2 separate regions of the Homo sapiens genome follow, and region 2 is linked to region 1. The links come from fine-mapping of genetic effects on gene expression. A gene starts in region 1. The other region holds a variant in brackets. All regions are shown on one strand. Distances are from middle to middle. Region 1 holds the start of HSPA12A (heat shock protein family A (Hsp70) member 12A). Region 2 has its middle 41 kb from the start of MIR9851.

Region 1 (9,156 bases):
CCCTGCCTGACTCCCCTCCAGCTTGGCCCACTCCTGAGCATCCACATTTCCAGGAGCACCACTGCGGAGTGGGCAAGATGTAGACGCCATTGCCCTCTGCTGTGTTCCCTCATGTCTTGCTGACTGACACTCAACAAAAAGTAAGACATTTATTGAACACCTACTAGTGTCCTTAGTAAAAAAAAATGGAAATGAAAGACATAGTCCACGCCTTTCTCGGAAGAAAGAGCATTGAGAGAAACAGCACAAGATTTTAGGCTCCATGGCTGACTCATATCCCAACTCCAGCATTCACTGGTTGGGCAAGTTAGCAAGTTTTTCAAAGCCCTCAATTGCCTTATCAGCAAAATGGGGTAATAATAATGCCAGCCTCACAGGGTTGCTGGAGGAGTCAATGAGATACAGGCATACAAAGCTGGCATATCGTAGGGCCTCAACAAACACTAGTTGGAATTATCAACCATTAAGTACCGAAGGCTTTGGGACCACACAGGCAGATCTCATCCCGATGGATGAGCCCAGGAAGGCTTCCTGAGAGGTGATACCTTAACTGAGTTTTGAAGGATGAGTAGGACCTTGCTAAACAAAGAGAGGATGTCCCAAGCAGGGAGGACTGCATGTGTCCAGGGCCAAAGGCGATCACAAGGCTCTGGGAAACACAAGACACTGTGTAGGGACATACACAGAAGGCATGGGAGGACCACCAAGGCGGCAGACAAGTTGCAGCAGCAGATGTTGACACGGAAGTGGATCCCATAGCCAGAACCCTAACCTGCAATGCCCAGAGCATCACCCTGACCTTTGCTTACTTCCTTTGGGGGCTATAACCAGCGCCCTGTCACTACCATCTACAGCTTGGTGGCTGAAGGAAGTAGGGCAGCCACTCTCTATTAGCCGCAGGCCTACTCAACACAAGTCCCTGAGGGCCTATGACATGCCAGGCACATGCCAGGAGAGGCTGTTCAGCTTGACCACCTGGGGCCTGCATCCCATGGCCTAGGTCCTTACCTAGGCCCCCTTCCAGCTGTGCGCTGCTAGGACTGTCAGCTTTTTCCTCTGTGAAATGGGGATCACAGGGCGTCCTTCATAGTCATTCATTCAACAACAAACGTGGTCAGGGCTAAATGAGATAACTCAATATTCCCAGGTTTCAGCACACACTAAGTCCTCAATAAAAGTGAACGTTTAAAATGTTTATTTTTATTAAGATGAACCTCCAGGATGGCATCTCCAAAGCCCAATGCCAGGCCTCGAGAGATACCCTCAACCCAGGCAAAACTGCCTGCCCACCATCCCTCTCCTCAAGCCCGTGCCCTGGAAAAAATGACTTGGTTTCCACTCTTCATGTCTAGCCCTGACTTGGTCACCATAGGAGCCATCCCTGTCCGAACCACTCTGTCCACCCCCAATTCATCTCACCCTTCTAGGGCTCCATGTGTCAACCCACTCAGGTCATGCGGGAGGGGGCAGGATTGAAGGTCATCTCAAATTTTGCTGTCCAACACCCAGACCCTCAAGTGTGGCCCTTCAGATTTTGTAAATTAAGTAATTTAAACATCTTATTAAGAAAATTTGCAAACATACACAAAGTAAGCAGAATAGTAATGAACCGCCGCTCCCCATCACCCAACTACCACATTTTGCCATTCTTGTTTCATTGGCACGCACCTCTGCCCACTCCCCACCCCACCCCAACTGCACTTGTTGGAGAAGATTTCATGGCCAGCCTTTCTGACACCACCCCCCAACACCACCTACCCACCAGCAAACCCCTCCCCAACCCAGGACTGCCACTGCTCACAAATTCCAACAGTGTGATATTTGTGGCACCCATCCTTTTGTACCAAAAACATTCTGGAAATCCTTCCCAGGAAGCACAACCATTTTTTTATGTCCTTAATAGAGTGGTAACCACTGCACACATGCATAAGGGCTGTATGCACAGGTTGGTGCCCTGGAATCAGATGGCCTGGGTCCCAAACAACACTTCCCAGATGTGTGACCTTGGATAGGTCACTCAACCTGTGTTTGGATTTCCCACCCAGGAAGGGGAGAATGCTGGTAACAGGTTTGTTGTGAGCCTTTAAAACAATAAAATAATGCACGCTCTTTTCCCAGCAATGAGGAAACCTTAGAAATAAGTGTAGGGGCCAGGGGCAAGCCAACTCTGCTCCTATGCAATACTATTCACATCCTCCATTTTACAGATAAAGGGAGAGGTGCCCAGAGGCACAGTGAGCTGCCAGGGACAGCCCGCTCTTCAGGTTGGTCTCTGTCCTAAGTCCATGCACCTGGAATTCTCACTGGCCACCTTGAGCTGGAGATGACTGGAAGTGAAGAAACAAATACTCCAGAACAAACGCAGAAGAGCGGTGGCAGGTGGCTCGGCACACCAGGTATGGGTGTCCCCATCCTGGACAGGATTTCTCCCAGCACCGTGTGTGTGTGTGTGTGTGTGTGTGTGTGTGTGTGTGTCTGTGTGTGTGTGTGTGTGTGCGTGTGTGTGTGTGTTAGGATAGGGGTGCTGAATTTGATTTACAAGACAAAACAGTGTTGGGAAAGGTGTGGGGAGTGGGTACACATTCCTGCCCACTTCTGATTTGACAAATCCTATGCCCAACCTTGTATTTGGTATCATCGCCCACCCTATCCCAGCATGAGAGGCAAGAAACTGGCTCAGTAATTCTCAGGCTTTAGCAATTCAACGCCCCTACTTATCGTCCTAAAAATTTTTTTATTTTCTGACTTAAAGGAAAAAAGTAAAAAAAAAAAAAAAAAAAAAAAAAAGAGTCAATCCAGTTGCTGAGTGATGTTCAGACAAAGACAGCTGCCAGTCCATTGCCTGCGTTCACCAGCTGAGGAAGAGTACAGGCGGGGACTGGGTGTGTGTTTGGGGACGGCCTGGGCTCTCCGCTGCCTCTCCCTGGAGTGAGCCCTGTCAGGATCCCCCACCCGCCACCCTGCACTCCCCCACCACTGCAGTGCCGCGTGGGGAGGCACCTCCCTGATCCGCAGGAACAATGGGCTGGGGTGGGGGCAGGTGCGGCTTGGAGTGCAGCAGAGGGTGGGGGCCGCAGGCCCGACAGCAAGACAGGGAACCCAGCGCAGATGGTGGCTGTGCTGCCACTGGACTCAGTTTCTCCAGCTTTTGGGGCCCCGCAGAGCCAAGCGCTCGTTTCGTGGCTGAATCTCCCTTGCGTCCCGGCATTTTAATATCATCCTCGCAGGCGGCTTGCCTGTCGCTCCCGGGAAAGATGCCTGGGCCGCGCTCCTCTCCCCGGCGGCCGCTCTCGCCGAGGCCCTGCAGGTCAGGGACGCGCGGCGCCTCCATGCGCCCAACTTTCCCCACTTGGGACCCACAGGAAGACTGGAATCCTGGCCAGCCGGGCCCTCCGTGGGAGAAGCCTTGATTTACAGCCCTGGGCTCCGAAACCTGCTCGTCCTCTTCCCGCAACCCCCTTCCCCGTCCTCTCCGGCTCCCCCACCCTTCGGAGCCCTAATCACGCTCCCCAAAGAAAGCGGCCCTAGCACATCTGCAAAATGCGAGCGTCTGTCCTCCGCACTGGGTGCCTCCCCCTGCCCCCCGCAAGGAAGGGACCATCGAACCCCCGCCGCTTCACCCTTCCCCAGCCCAGTGAGTCCCTGGGGATGGGCGGGGAGGTGGGTGAGAAGCCCTTCGGCCGCAGCTGCAGCCCCCACTCCTGGCTCGAGCGTCCGGCCGGGGTGGGATGGGGCGAGGGAACAGGTCCAAATCTCCGATTTCCCCCAGGCTCCCACTCCTGCCTCGCTGAGTCACGAAAATTACCCGCTGGGGCCACCCGGCCACCCGGCGGCGGGCCCTTTACCCAGCCAGCGCCGGCCTCCGCAGCCCATCGCGCGGGGGCTGCACACGCGGGGCGGTCCTCACCCGCACGCGCGACCAGCCCCGCAGGAGGCGCCACCCGAGGCAGGGACCAACCAGGCGCCTCAGCGGGGGCTGCAGTCCCCGCCGCGGAGTCCGCACCCTGGCGGGGCGCAGAACATGTGACCCGCGGGCCGTCTCCGGTCCACCGGACCCCGGCCCCCGGCCCCGCTGCTGCTGACCCCGGCCCCGCCCGCCAGAACTGGATGCAGCGCGGGCGTCCCCACTTTTCCACGGCGCGCGAGGGGGTGCGGAGCGTTGGGCCAAGCGCGCCTCCTCCCTCCCTGCCCCGCCAGCCGCGGCCGCAGGACCCGCAGCCTGCGCTCACCTCGGGGCCCGTCGCTGCCGCCGGCCTCCTTGTCCGCCATGGTCGCGCAGCCCCGGACCGCGAGGGGAGCCTCCAGCGCAGCGCCCGTGCCCGTGCGGGTCTCTGTCCGCGTCCGCGGCGGCGCTCGGGCCGTGTCTGAGCCGCCGGGCAGCGGGAGCGCTGCTCTGACGCGGCAGCCGCCGCAGCCACGGCTCCTCCCCGGGCCCCGCCCCGGCCCGCCCGGCGCCCCGCCCCTCCGAGCTCGGGCCGGCCGGGAAAGGTCGGGGAAGGCGGGCGCGGGGAACTGCCTGGCTCCGGAGCTGCGCTCCCCGCCCGCCCAGAGCGGCCCGCCGAGGCCCGGCCTCTCCTCTCCCGGCTTCGGGACCGAGCGGTCGCCCCGCAGTCGACCGCGGCGGGGGTAGTGGCGCGCCCGGGGCTGCGCTGCGGGAGCGGATTTCAGGCCCTCGGGGCCCCGCGGCGCGTCCCCTCTTTGGAAGTCACCGAATGGCCAGGCCTGGAGCCCTTCAGCAAGCCCAGCGCGCCCGGCGCTCTCCCGAGGACGCCCGCGCCAGTCCCCACCAGCTTCTGTCTGTCCCCCAGGGTCCCAGGGGAGCGGCCCTGGGCCGGCGCAAAGGCGGGCTGGGTGGACCCCGGCGCGGGCAGGACCCAGGCCGCAGACCAAGGACCTGCGCGGGGGCCGAGCCCGGGGCACCGCCTCCAGGCCGCCTGCGGGACTCCATGGCAACTCCGGACCCAGGGAGGTGCTTGCCCCGGAGGCTGAGTCGCGCCTTCCATATATGGGATCCAGCTGGGCCCTCCTTAGAAGTCTGAGAATAACGATATTAATAATGCAAGGCTTCAGTTGTGAATGATTCATACTCCCTGTCCCCAGCTCCTCCACACACACGCGCCGCTGGCACCTGTTTGGGCCTGGCCAGGCACCCCCTGGGTCCGCGGTGTCACCACCCTGCCTTGGCAAACGAGGGCAGTAATAGGAATCCGAGGAGCACCGTCACTGGGTCGTTTCCGGGTGCCTGGCACTGTGCTACCTGCCTGGTGCTTTACCTCTATCTCCTTTCCTCCCCATAACTAACATTTTGCAGATAAGGAAGCTGAGGATCGGCAGGGTTACAATATCACACCCAGCAGGTGAGTCGCGGAGCTGGGATTCCCACCCAGCTGTAACCACCAGCATCCCTCACTTCCAGAGATGGGTGGCATTTCCCAAAGATCACCTAGGGGAGGCTTCATCGTACAATCCCGTTCTGGATGACGGAGTGGGCAGAGAGCTGCTGCGAGAGCGTTATGGATGACGGAATGGGCAGAGAGCTGCTGCGAGAGCCTGGAGACCAGAAGGTGATGGCAGAGTGACAAGTTCAAAACACAAAACTTGTCTTCTGTCTGCCTGCATTAAAAATCCCAAATGGACAGTTCCTGGCTGTGCATGAAACCACAGTCAAGTTATTTAACCTATCTGAGCCTCAATATTCTCATCTGCGAAATGGGTATAACAGGAGAACCCACTTCATAAAACTGAAGATTAGATAGACTATGCATGTAACATGCTTAGCTTGGGATCTAGCACATGGTAAAAATCATTAAGTCACTGATGGCCCCCGAGGGCCCTTCCTGCCTACGTGCCTGCGACAGCCTGCCCACAGCTCCCCCGCCCTCCTGTCTCACCCCTTCAGTCCATGCTTTGTGATCTGGTCTGTCCCCACCCTACTCCAGCTCCAGCTACAGCCGCTCTGATTCTTCAATCCCTCTCACCCACCCCTGCTTCTCTTATGCTGGTATTTCAAAGACATGAAAATGTGCTTGATGCCTGGATCACCCGTCCTCTCATTTCACCACCACCAGCAACCTAAGAACTTCTCCTTCTCATCATGGACTGCCCAACTCCAGGAAGGCTCCCCTGCATACCCATGCTGGCCAGGGGGGCCCTCCTCAGTGTCCTCAAGGCACTCGTTCCTCCCCATCAGACCAGGGCATCAGGACATTGGCCTTGACAGCCTGTCAGAAGCAGCAGAAACCCGTAGCCCCTGCACATCTGCCTCCTGCTGTGGAAGGGCCTTGGGCGCCACGTGCCCTCATGGGACTCCCAGCCACAGTGACATGAGGGTGCGTGAGAAGGATGGGAGGTGACATGCAGGCCCCAGTGCTGGGGGCAGAGAGCAGAACACTTTTGATTTGCAGGGGAGCATGAAAGGCAGCGCACACTCTGCCTGGGATTTGCCCTCACGGCCTTCATGCTCATCACACTAATTACAACGCGCCCTGCTGAGCACACCATCCAGCCCGCCAGCGAGGGGCTGTTGTGGTCTCACCTAGTTCTCATGGTGGCCCTTGCGGTTTTGCAGGAGAGGAAAAGGAAGCATTCAAAGGCTGAGGCACCTGTTCAGGCATCCTCTGGCCATCAGCAGCAAGGCTGGGGTTCAAGGCTCAGCACGCCACATCAAGGAAGGGTTCCCACCTTCCTCCCTGGAGTCTTCTTCCCCAATAGCAGCCAGAGAGAGAGCATGTCATTCTCCTGCTACCAGGTCCTACACAAATTGGCCTCCTGATGCCTCAGTGACCTCAGCTCCTTCCACTCTCCCATTCCCCCCAAAGCCCAAACACACACAGGCCCCACCTGGGGGGTCACTCCCCCGGACACATCCTTCAAGAGAATCAATCACGTGGCTTGCTCCTCCCAGAACACTCTATCTAAAACTGCTGCCTCGCCCCCACTGGGAAGTAAGTCCCAGGAGAGCAAGATCGTGGACTGTGTTGCCAGTTCTGCATCTCTGTGTCTAGAACAGCGCCTGGTACATGGCAGGCACTTAATAAATCCTTGATGCTTGACTGGCTGAATCAGTAAGTGAAGCGGGAACACAGCCCAGCACACAGACATTCTGCTGACCCCCAGGGCTCATGCCTTTCCACAGCCCCAGCTGTCTCAGGGCACGCCCAGACTCCTGGGAGGTTGCTCTGTACCAAGTTCCCTCAAGCTCCCCTCCAAAGACTCCTCCTCACAGTGCTCTCTGTGGGTACACTGCAGCACCCTCTATACCATCTCTTCTCCACCCTCCACACCCTCCACAGGCTGTAGACTGTGGTAGCTGGTGGAGAGAATGTTACACATCTCGGTTGGATACTCAAGTCCTAAAAAGTGGCCCAGCCCAGAGCCAAGTGACCACCTTCTAGTTCCCTTCCTGCTGGTCACTCCAGCTTCAAGGGCCTGCCCTCAGGTCCCCAAAGAGCCAGTGCCTCCACTGGAAGCCGATTCTCCTCTAGTTTTGCCAGGTAACCAACCCTGTCTCTTCCTACAGGCCTCAGCTTGGATGGCACTTCCTCCAGGACACCACCTAGCCCTCCAAGATCACATGAGGCCCCTCCTCTCTCCTCTGTGCCCAACCCCCCATCACTCCTATCTTAGCACTTATCACAACAACTCCAAGGTCAGTAGTATTGTTAACCCCATTGTACAGATGACCAAACTGAGATACAGAAAGGTCACTGAGCTCAGAAGCTGCAGTGCTGAGACTAGACCTCTGAGACCAGAACTCAGGTCTCTCCAGCTTCAGGTCACCCACCTCCCCCTCTAGCTGCCAGCTCTCCAAAGTGGGACCAGCCATGTCCACATTTAGAGCCCCCAGACCCTAGGATGGTGCCTGGCGCAGAGAGCAAAACATTGATGGAAAACAGCCTCCTCAGCTTCAGGCCTTTCTCATCCTCTCCGGGATCCCGTTCACCCACAGCCCCACACACGCTTCCCTGCCAACAGACTCCCTCTCTGCTCTTCAGCCCCCAAACAAACCCCCACCACATCCATTCATGCAAATAGAAGTCAGAGTCCAGAGGCAGGCCCAGCTAACTGCACCAGACAGCCAGGGCACTCTGTCACCTGCTATAACTACCAACTGTGGAAAGGGCTGGACATGATGCACAGCATGGGTAGGGGAGGCAGCTGAGTCCTCTGGCCCCCAGCTCAGAAGAAACTGAGGATAATTGTTGATGGACCAGATGCTAAGGGCAGTGAGCCCTGGGGGATGCATCAGGACCAAGAATGAGAAAAGTACAACAGGAGGAAGCAGAGAGCATGGGGTCAGCTGGACCAGGGCTCAAGTGGGCTCAGCTGCTCCCTGCCCACCTCAGGGGACCTGGGACATACCTCTCTGGGTCTGTTTCCTCACCTGTCAAAAGGGCCCAGTAATGATAGGTATCATAATTATAAGAGATCATATATGTAAAACATTCCATTTAGAGTCAGCCTATATATGCCACTGTTAATATGACTTATTTAATTTATATATTTGAACACAAAAATGCCATTTCCTTGTATATTATAAATTACAGAATGGATCCAGGCAAGATTTTCTTGGCTGATAAAGACACACAGAAGATATGAGTAGCTTTTTCCATTTTAATTTTTCTTTTATGTTTTTGTTAAGCTTAAGAAACACTGATATGAGTTCATATCTGAACTTTGACATAGGACACTGCCCGTCAAAGCTGCTTTGGACTTTAGGATATGCCAGCGGAACGTTGTCCATGAACTGAATATCATAAAAGAGACTAATTCATAACAGGACCAAGATTCAGATTTGCTAAAGCAACATAAAAACTTGCAGAGAAAACCTGGGCAAATGTCAGCCGCCTTGACCTCCAACTGTCAGTGCATTTTAAAAAGCCAGCCTTACAGCTGAATCATGGTGGCCAGTGTATACATCCTCCCCACCTCACTGGTCTTCCAGTCCATCTGGTGTGAATCGGTCTCTCCATTAACATTCCAAAACAACCTTCACATGTACAATGTGAGCTGCTGAGCCACTCTTTCAGGCAAAAATTCAAGGGCCAGAGGAAATTATTGCTCCAAATATCACCATCACTCAGGACTGCAATGTAAACTTTAGAAATGCCTTCTCAGGTAATGGAAGGTTATCCAAATATTTTTCGTAAGTATTTC
Region 2 (9,156 bases), 44 kb after region 1:
ACACAAAGTGAGACCATAAGATGAGATTTTGTGCTCACTAGATGGACAAAACTCAGAAATGTGACTATCCCAAGGGTTGGTGAGGAAGTGGGTGAGCACCGGGGATCTTTACACAAAGCTAGAAAGAGGCTTATTCGACTGTTTTGGAAATTTGGCAATCTCTGAAAAGCTGAAGATACGTGAGCTTTGACACAGCAACCCCACTAGCATAGCCTAGTGCCTGTGCCCAAGCCTGCGTATATGACAAGGCTGATAGCAGCGCTTTTTGTAACAACCAAAATCGGGAGAGGGAGTTGTCCTTTGACTGAAGAATGGATAAATAAATTGTGGCATAGTCCCGGGTGGAACATTACCTAACATTGCAAAGGAATGAACTACAGGTACACCCAGCAACAAGGATGATGCTTAGAGTTGTAATGTGGAGCAAAAGAAAAAGCAAGTCACAAAAAAATGCCTCCTGTGTGACACTATTGTCATAAAAACCAAGCAAAACTAAACAGACTATTCAGGTAGGGCTCATAGACATGCTATCAACTGCTTTTTAAAAACAAGGGAATAAATGAGATGCTATTCAGGGTAGGGGCTGCCTGGTCAGGGAAGAGGACAGGATCACCAAGGCTTGTGCAAGTAGATTCACAGGTGCCAACAATGTTCTACGTCTTAAGCTGGGTGGTGGACTCTCAGTTTCAACAAAATCGCTGAGTAGACACTGAGACTGACTCCCAGGCCTGATGCCTGGCAACATACCAAGCCCAGGACACAGGGTCACCCTCACGGAGGGTACTGGAAGCCTTAGAAGTAACCTCAGAGAGGCAGAGAACATGGTGGGCCCCAAGGCGAAAGAAGGGAAATGACAAATGTCTCCTGCCACTCAGATGCCAGGTCTCTCCACAGCCTTTCCCACGTAATCCACACAGGCAATGTGTTAAACAGATACCAATCACGTCCAGCGCACAGATGGGCAAACTGAGGCTCTGAAAGACTAAGCTGTTTCTCCAGGAAGTGCCAATGGGAAGGGCTGGGGCTGAGACACCTCCAGTCCAGGTCCCTCTTTCCACACCATCGACGTGGTGCTGTGGGGATCAGGAGAGGCTTTGATGAGGAGGTGACGTTGGAGACATGTCTGGAAGAATTTGGAGGAGTCAGTGGCAGAGGAGCCTGGATGGCAGAAGGTGGCCTGTGCCCTGGCAAAGTGTGCAGCAGTATGGCTCGGGGCACAGTGAGTGGGAAGAGGGACAGAGCCTGACTCATGTGGCCCAGGGTCTGCCCACGATTATTGACTGTCAAGCACTGAATGAATGAGCGTGTGGGTGGACTTGGCTGGAGCACAGGCTGCACACGGACAAAGAGCTACAGCCGTCAACTGCAGCAGCTGCAACAGTCCTGACCCACCGTCCCCACCCCAGTCCACTCTCTCCCGCTAGCCAGGGTGAGTTTTGTAACACATAAACTGGGGCACATTCTTGCCCAGATCCAAATCCTCCAATGTTGTCTGTGATATAGTCTTAAGTGGGGGGAAAAAAGAGCAAGGAACAGAATGGTGTGTTAGTATACCACCATTTATGGGTATTTTTTGAGACAGAGTCTCACTCTCTTGCCCAGGCTGGAGTGCAATGGCTCACTGCAACCTCTGCCTCCCAGGTTCAAGCGATTCTCCTGCCTCAGCTTCCCGAGTAGCTGGGACTACAGGCATGTGCCACCACGCCCAGCTACTTTTTTGTATTTTTAGTAGAGACAGGGTTTCACCATGTTGGCCAGTACGGTCTTGAACTCTTGACCTCCAGTGATCCACCCACCTCAGCTTCCCAAAGTGCTAGGATTACAGGTATGAGCCACCATGCCCAGCCCATTTATGGTTTTTAAAATTACATAATTACATCTATTTTTTTCTTATGTATCCAAAAGATCTCACTGGAAGGACACATCAGGACCTGGTTGCAGTGTTGACCTCTTAGGGAACCAGATGGCTAAGTGGGACAGCCATGACTGGCCATGTGCTTGCCAATCCCATTTCCTCTTCCTGGACACACAAAAGTCACATTTCCCAGCTTCCCTTGTGGCTAGGCTGGGGCCTTGTGACTTGCTCTGGCCAATGGGCAGTGGCTGGGGTGATGCATGTCTCTCCAAGGCAGGCCGCTCCTGACCTAGGTGGCCCCTTGCCCTGCAAGTGGCAGCGCAGGGTCTTTGAGCACTTTCCAAAGTCCATTGCCTGATTTCTCTGTTCTGCAGAGCATTTTTCACATCCTGGTCACTTTCTCGTTTATTGGTTTATCTTCCTATTAGCGTGTAAGCTCCACTAGAGCAAGAAGTTCATCTGTCCTGTTCATTTCAGTAAGCCTAGCACTTAGAGTGGTACCTGGACTCTGTAGGTGCTCAATAAAGGTTTGTTGAGGGAATGAATGAATGAATGAATGGATGAGTGCAGGAATGAGTGAATGCCTTTAAGATTGGCTTATGATTGACATTTATGAAGTTGTCTGCCTAGCGTCCCTTTAGCAAGAGTTGCTCCTTCCCGTTCCCTCCACGTGTTGCCCTTGCAGTTGGGGACTTGTGCTTCCGGCCCCAGCTGACTGGCTGAGGAATGAGTCCCTGGCTGAGCTGGGTCAATGAATCCCTTCCCTGGGATCTTTGGACTAGATGGGATAAATAGAAATCAACATAGACAGAGCCTCTCCGTCTGGGGTTGAGCCTGTAACGCTAACCTCGGAGCTGTCAGTCTGGGCTGGAGATGCTGAGGGCACGTGTCTACAACAGCAGACAGGGAGGCAGCTGCTCCTAGGCAGGAGCCAACAGGAGAAACCAGAGAGGCCCCAGTCCTGCTGGTTCTAGGCCCTGCTGTGTTCCTCTTTTCTTGGCATCATGAAGCACCTCAGGCCCTAATAACAAGTTGAGGACCAACAAGAGGCTCTGGAGCTTGGATTCCAGAGGAGACATTTCCCAGCCTTTGGGAGGGGCGTCCTGGAAACCCTCATTGTGCCCTGCTCTGAGATGGCTTTGGGGCTTGACCCCTGCATGTCCACTCTCAGATTCCTTTCCTCCCCCTCCCACCCACCGCCACCATCATTCAAATGTCCAAAGCCTCAGGTAGTGGGAAGGAGGAGTATGAATTCTGGAACACAGGCAAGGACTGATGTCTTGTTCGGGAACGTTCTGGCCACCACAGCCTAGTGCTGCTGTGGAGGAAGGAGGAACGGCCCCGACCCAGGCCTGCCAGTGGACATGGCAGCCCGGGGACAGAGATCAAGATGTGGGAGCTGAGAGCAGTCCTGGCCACCAGCAGAGCATGGCATCAGGGCATTGTGACAGAAATGTTCTTGCCTGACCCCAGCCCCAGGACGGCTGTCCCCCACCCAGATCCCCGCCTGCCTCCCTGGTTCTCCCTCTAAGCCTCCACCTCAATGCAGGGGTCAGCAGGTGCCCACTCATAAAGCCCAGCTCACTCCCCAGCCTTGGGGGAACGCACACTCGGGCTCTGCTGCCCACCGCATGCTGCTGTTCATGATCCCTCTCTCTTCCTCTCGGACAGACACACACACACTACCCCAAATATCCACCTGCCCTCTGAGCACTGGCATCTGCTGTCACCCCCTCCCTCCCAGGGAATGGTCTCAGCCATCCACCGGTTATCCCAGCCAGAAGCCAGGCACCCACTTGACTCTGCCTTTCCCCGCTGAGCCCTCCTGCCCCACTGCCCTAATACCGCAAGATTCCTCCTATTTCCCCCCCTCCCCTCACCTTAGACTGCAGGCCCACCCCATGGCCTACTCAGACTCTGCCTGAGTGGTCTAGCATCCTCCCCTGCTTACATCTCTTTGTGGCCCTGGGAGACATCCCGACTCCTGCACCCGTCATGAGGCCTTTGCTGATCTAACGCCCACCTGTGCACTGGGAATCTTTGTAGCTTCATGAGGTTCACCTATGAGGTTAGCGCCAGAGAAGCCCCACGTGGAGCCTCTCGGGTAATTACGCAGGAGATGGAGCGGGTTCTGCAGAAGAGACTCTCAGCAAATCTCAGCAGTGGGGTTGCATGGAAGGCAGGGCTCCCAGGGGCTGAGACACAGTGGTAAATACTTCTTAAAATAGACTGTTTATGTTATGGATCAAACTGAATTCCTAAGTTTAACTATATTTTTGGTAATTTGGTGGGGAAACAGGCTGCGCAGAACAACTCCGCCTTGCCCCTAGCCTGGGCTCAGGACTCTAGGGAGGTCTAGGGAGCAGCTCCAGGGCCTATGGCCCCTCAGGTAGAGGCACAGGTGCGTGTGTGCACATTTTCCTGAAAAAAAAAGAAAAAAAAGATCTAGTGCTTTTGTCAGAATCTCAAAGGGATCCATGATCTAAGAAATGTCTAAAGCATTGTTCTCACAGAAAAATGTTCGTTCTCATTTATAATTCAAGAAATGTACATTTAAATGGTATATTTTTCTCATCTGTCTCAGTGGCGTTCATCTGTAGCTGCCTATTAGAATCTCCTGGGGAATTATTTATTTATTTATTTATTGAGACAGAGTCTGGCTCTGTCACCCAGGCTGAAGTGCAGTGGCTCAATCTTGGCTCGCTGCAACCTCTGCCTCCCAGGTTCAAGCAATTCTCATGCCTCAGCCTCCTGAGTAGCTGGGATTACAGGTGCCCACCACCACGTCCAGCTAATTTTTGTATTTTTAGTAGAGACAGAGTTTTGCCATGTTGGCCAGACTGGTCTCGAACTCCTGACCTCAGGTGATCCACCTGCGTCAGCCTCTCATAGTGCTGGGATTACAGGTAGGAGCCACTGCACCCAGCCTCCTGGGGACATGTTTTAAGTGCCAATGCCCAATCACCTCCCGGACACACACACACACACACACACACATACACACACGCACGCACTCACACACACACGGTCAGATTCTGCTTTAATTGGTCTGGGATACTGTCGTGTTGGCATATTTAGAAAGCTCCCCAGGTCATTCTGACTGCAGTCAAGATTGAGAACCAGCAACCTGTCAGATCAACCAAGGGCAAAAACGTCCATGGGATCTCATGCATTCTGGGTGGGAGTGCGGCCTGGTTTAAAAGTCCTTTGCAGAGCAATC[T/C]GGAAATACCAAAGCTAGAAGGGCCTCTACCCTCTGACCAGCAATTCCACTCTTAATAATTTAGTCAACAGCAGCTCTTGCATTGGTGCTTAAAGCTGTGTATAGAGGATATTTACTGCCCACTGCTCCTAATAAGCACAAGATTGGAAAGTGCCCAAATGTCAAATCAAGCATGTCACATCCACATACTAGAATACTCTCTAGCCAGCAAAAAAAAAAAAAAAAAAAAAAACCACAGGCGCCTTCTGTGAAGTGATGTGGGAGGCTTTCAGCGTCATTGCTAAATGCAAACGAGAAACTGAGTGGAGGGTGTGGTTTTGAACGTACAGGCGTCTGTATTTTTATATGCATCTAGAATTTCTGGAAGGATATACTTTTCCAAAACCTCTTAACAATTATGGCCTTTGGGGAAGAAGTGGGGCTAGGGTGGGAGGCGGGGAGCTTAGTTTTCACTTGCTTCCCCCTTTTGTGTTGTTTGAATTGTTATTATTAATATGCACTGCTTTTTCCAAAAACTTCAGAAGGTGAAAAGAAGAGGAAAGAAGGGAAGAGAGTGCCTGGCAGCCGCTTGGCACAAGGACTAAGAAGTGGAGTGCCTGGTCATGGAGGGGTGCGAGTGAAGCCTCCAAACTGGCTTCAGCGTGGGGGCACCCTAAATCCCCTGGAATCAGGTCAGACTCTGAAGGTAGGAGTCTGCTTGGTCTATGGTGGAAGTTGGGGACAGTGACTTGGCCTGAGGGTCGGGGATAGGAGGGCTTCCAGGACGGCAGGGCGGGAGCTCTGCAAGCCAATCCCTCCCTCGTGCCACCTCCACGCAACGCCGTTAAATTCAGATGCTACGCTAAAAGCAGAGGAAGGAAAAATATCTGTGTCACAGCACCAACTGGAAACCAACGCGCGTACATCCTGTCTCTACTCTGGCCGAGCCGACCAAAGCACATCCTGCAAAATTCTAGACCCCCGCAAACGGCGGGAGGCGGCCGTGCGCACAACATCCTGCAAACGCCGCCCTCTGGTGGTGGAGCTGGTGAACTGCGCCCAGGTCCATAGGCGGGCCCACGCTTGAGTGTTCCAAACGGGAGAAGAAAAAAGTACCATTTAATACCGAAGCGAAAACAAGTACTCAGTAAGAAAAGCACAGATGCAAACGCAAAATTCATATTTTAAATATAGTTCGCAAACTGGTTCCCAACTAACTCTTCTCCCAAAATACAATAGCTTGTTTCTCCCCTTGCAAAATACATATTCTCATTCTAAAAAAACAATAATGAAAAGCACTAGGAAAAAGAGACACCTACAGTCACCAGGCTGTGATCTGTAGCTCTTGCTAGCATTTTGGTGAGTATCCTTCCAGACTCTATCAACACATACACAGAGATACATGCAAATGGATAGCAATGGGACTGTGCAACACACCCAATTTTGTAGCCTGATTTTTTTCTCTTAATTATATATTGTGGGTATCTGCACAATAATACATGCTACATCATCATTTTTAATATTTTCAATTGAAAAAGTTATACGTGTGAAAATATACCCACAGATAAACTCACATAAATGAGAGAAACTATCTATTAATAGCAAACTTGCTGAGTCAATTATGATATATCCATCTGGTAGAATTCTACGCAGCTATTTTTTTTTTTTTTTTTGAGACAGAGTTTTGCTCTGTCACCCAGGCTGGAGTGCAGTGGCAAGATCTCAGCTCACTGCAACCTCTACCTCCCGGGTTCAAGCAGTTCTCCCTGCCTCGGCCTCCTAGTAGCTGGGTCTATAGGCACCTGCCACAACGCCCAGCTGATTTTTGTATTTTTAGTGGAGACAAGGTTTCACCATGTTGGCCAGGCTGCTCTCGAACTCCTGACTTCAGGTGATCCACCCACCTTGGCCTCACAAAGTGCTGGGATTACAGGTGTGAGCCACCGCACCCAGCCACTATGCAGCTATTAATCTAATGCACTGGTGCTGCAATATGTCAAAGATATATCACATCGCAAAATAAAATTACATTACAAAATAATACGTATAGAAGTATCCTATTTTAGCTTACAAAAATATATTTATATACATATACCATTATATATGTATTGATATATAGACATATATAGATATATATGTATATGCCTGTGTCTGAGAAGAAAATGTTTCTTGAAGGATACTCCAGAAACTCTCTTAGGAAATAAGACTGGGAAATGAAGGATGAGTATAAGTTGTAGCTTTTACTTTCTCTCCCCTTATAAGATTTTTTAAAAATATTATCCTCTCGATGATAGAATTCTGAATCCTGAATGTGCTATGACTTAGCTGAATAATGCCCTGTTGGTGAACACTCAAGCTGCTTATACTTTTTCTGCCAGGAACAAAGCTACAGTGGTACCTTGGATGTAGTCACTGTGCACTTGTCTGATTATTCCTGCTGAGTAAATTCCTAGGCATGGAATTGAGGGTTCGTTTTTAAGGTGCATCATCCAGGATATTGACTATCAACACGTCGTAGAGTGAAGCTGACGTGACTGTTCAGTGCCCGTTTGCATTTCTGAAGGGCCTAATGTCTGCTTCTAGGTGAGGAGGGCATTATCTCTGGCCATGCTTCATATCCCTGGAAGCTCTCTCCAGACTACGGGTCAGGTTCACCGGATGCCCAGACGTCCCTCTTAAGGTCTTGCTTCCATTTATGGCTGCACCTCCACACCCACTGTCATCCTCACCCACCTCTGTCTATTCCCTCCACAGCAGCCAGTGAGAGCCTTCACCAGACCCTGCCCACGCTCCATCAGTAGCTTTGCTGCACACTGGAAATCAATCCAAGGTCCTCCCATGGCCCAGGAATCCCTGCATGGTATGGACCCTGATAATCTTTCTTTTTTTTTTTTTTTTTTTTTTTTTTTGAGACAGAGTCTCGCTCTGTCGCCCAGGCCGGACTGCAGTGGCGGGATCTCGGCTCACTGCAGGCTCCGCGCCCTGGGGGTTCACGCCATTCTCCTGCCTCAGCCTCCCAAGTAACTGGGACTACAGGCGCCCGCCACCTCACCCGGCTAATTTTTTGTATTTTTAGTAAAGACGGGGTTTCACCGTGTTAGCCAGGATGGTCTCTATCTCCTGACCTCGTGATCCGCCTGCCTCAGCCTCCCAAAGTGCTGGGATTACAGGTGTAAGCCACCACGCCCAGCCCCCTGATGACCTTTCTAACCTCACGTCTCCCTCCTCTTCCTGCCCTCAGCCCACTCATGCTGCACACTGGCCACCTTGCTGTTCCTGACGCTCCCCGAACATCCAGCCCCAGGGCCTTTGCACTTGCTGTTCCCTTTGCCTGGAATACTGATCCTCTACTCACAAGCCTCTTTCCCTGGCTTCATTCACAGCCCAGCTCAAATATTTCCTCCTTAGAGAAGCCTTCTGGCCCACCCTGCCTTAAAGGACACTCTCCATTCCCAGACCCCATCTCATTGTCTAGTTATCATTTTTTATTTTTTTATTGAGACAGAGTCTCACTCCGTCGCCCAGGCTGGAGTGCAGTGGCATGATCTTGGCTCACTGCAACCTTTGCCTCCCAGGTTCAAGCGATTCTCCTGTCTCAGCCTCCCAAGTAGCTGGAACTACAGGAGCGCACCACCACACACACCTAATTTTTGTATTTTTAGTAGAGACAGGGTTTCACCATGTTAGCCATGCTGGTCTCGAACTCCTGACCTCAAGTGATCCGCCCGCCTTGGCCTCCCAATGTGCTGGGATTAGAGGCATGAGCCACTGCACCTGGCCCGTCCAGTTATCTTTGTATTCATAGCCCTGGGATTGCATTCTAAATCTACGTGTTTATTTGCCTTTGATATTCTGCTTTCACTGAGTTACAAGCTGCACAGGAGCAGGAGACTGTCTGGCTAGTGCTGTGTCCCCAACACCCAGGACAGGCCTGGAATGTGCAGGCCCTCCCTCCACAAGTGTGTGCTGCTTGGATGAAGGAGAAGCTATTAACACAAGGATGTCTGAAGCTTGAAGAGCCTAGATAGGCCATTTCTCCCAACTGCTCCCAAAGGAGGTCAGATGTGTTTAAAGCATCTTTTCCATAGATGAAGCTTTATCA

Evidence for each region. PIP is the estimated chance that this variant, and not a neighbour inherited with it, causes the effect.
Region 2: its variant is fine-mapped to the expression of HSPA12A in spleen (GTEx, PIP above 0.99).

Annotation. Positions count from the first base shown.
Region 1 is chr10:116,738,201-116,747,356 of GRCh38, forward strand. HSPA12A (heat shock protein family A (Hsp70) member 12A) reads right to left here and starts at 4,366. Exons shown (of 12, transcript NM_025015.3): 1 at 4,230-4,366. The coding sequence starts at 4,269. RefSeq lists enhancers at 4,231-4,935, 4,936-5,639 and a silencer at 4,231-4,680.
Region 2 is chr10:116,782,157-116,791,312 of GRCh38, forward strand. It overlaps a transcript of HSPA12A not described here. Among named protein-coding and RNA genes, the nearest start is that of MIR9851, 41 kb to the right of the region's middle. RefSeq lists a silencer at 2,642-2,808. The variant T/C (reference allele first, on the strand shown) is at 5,076.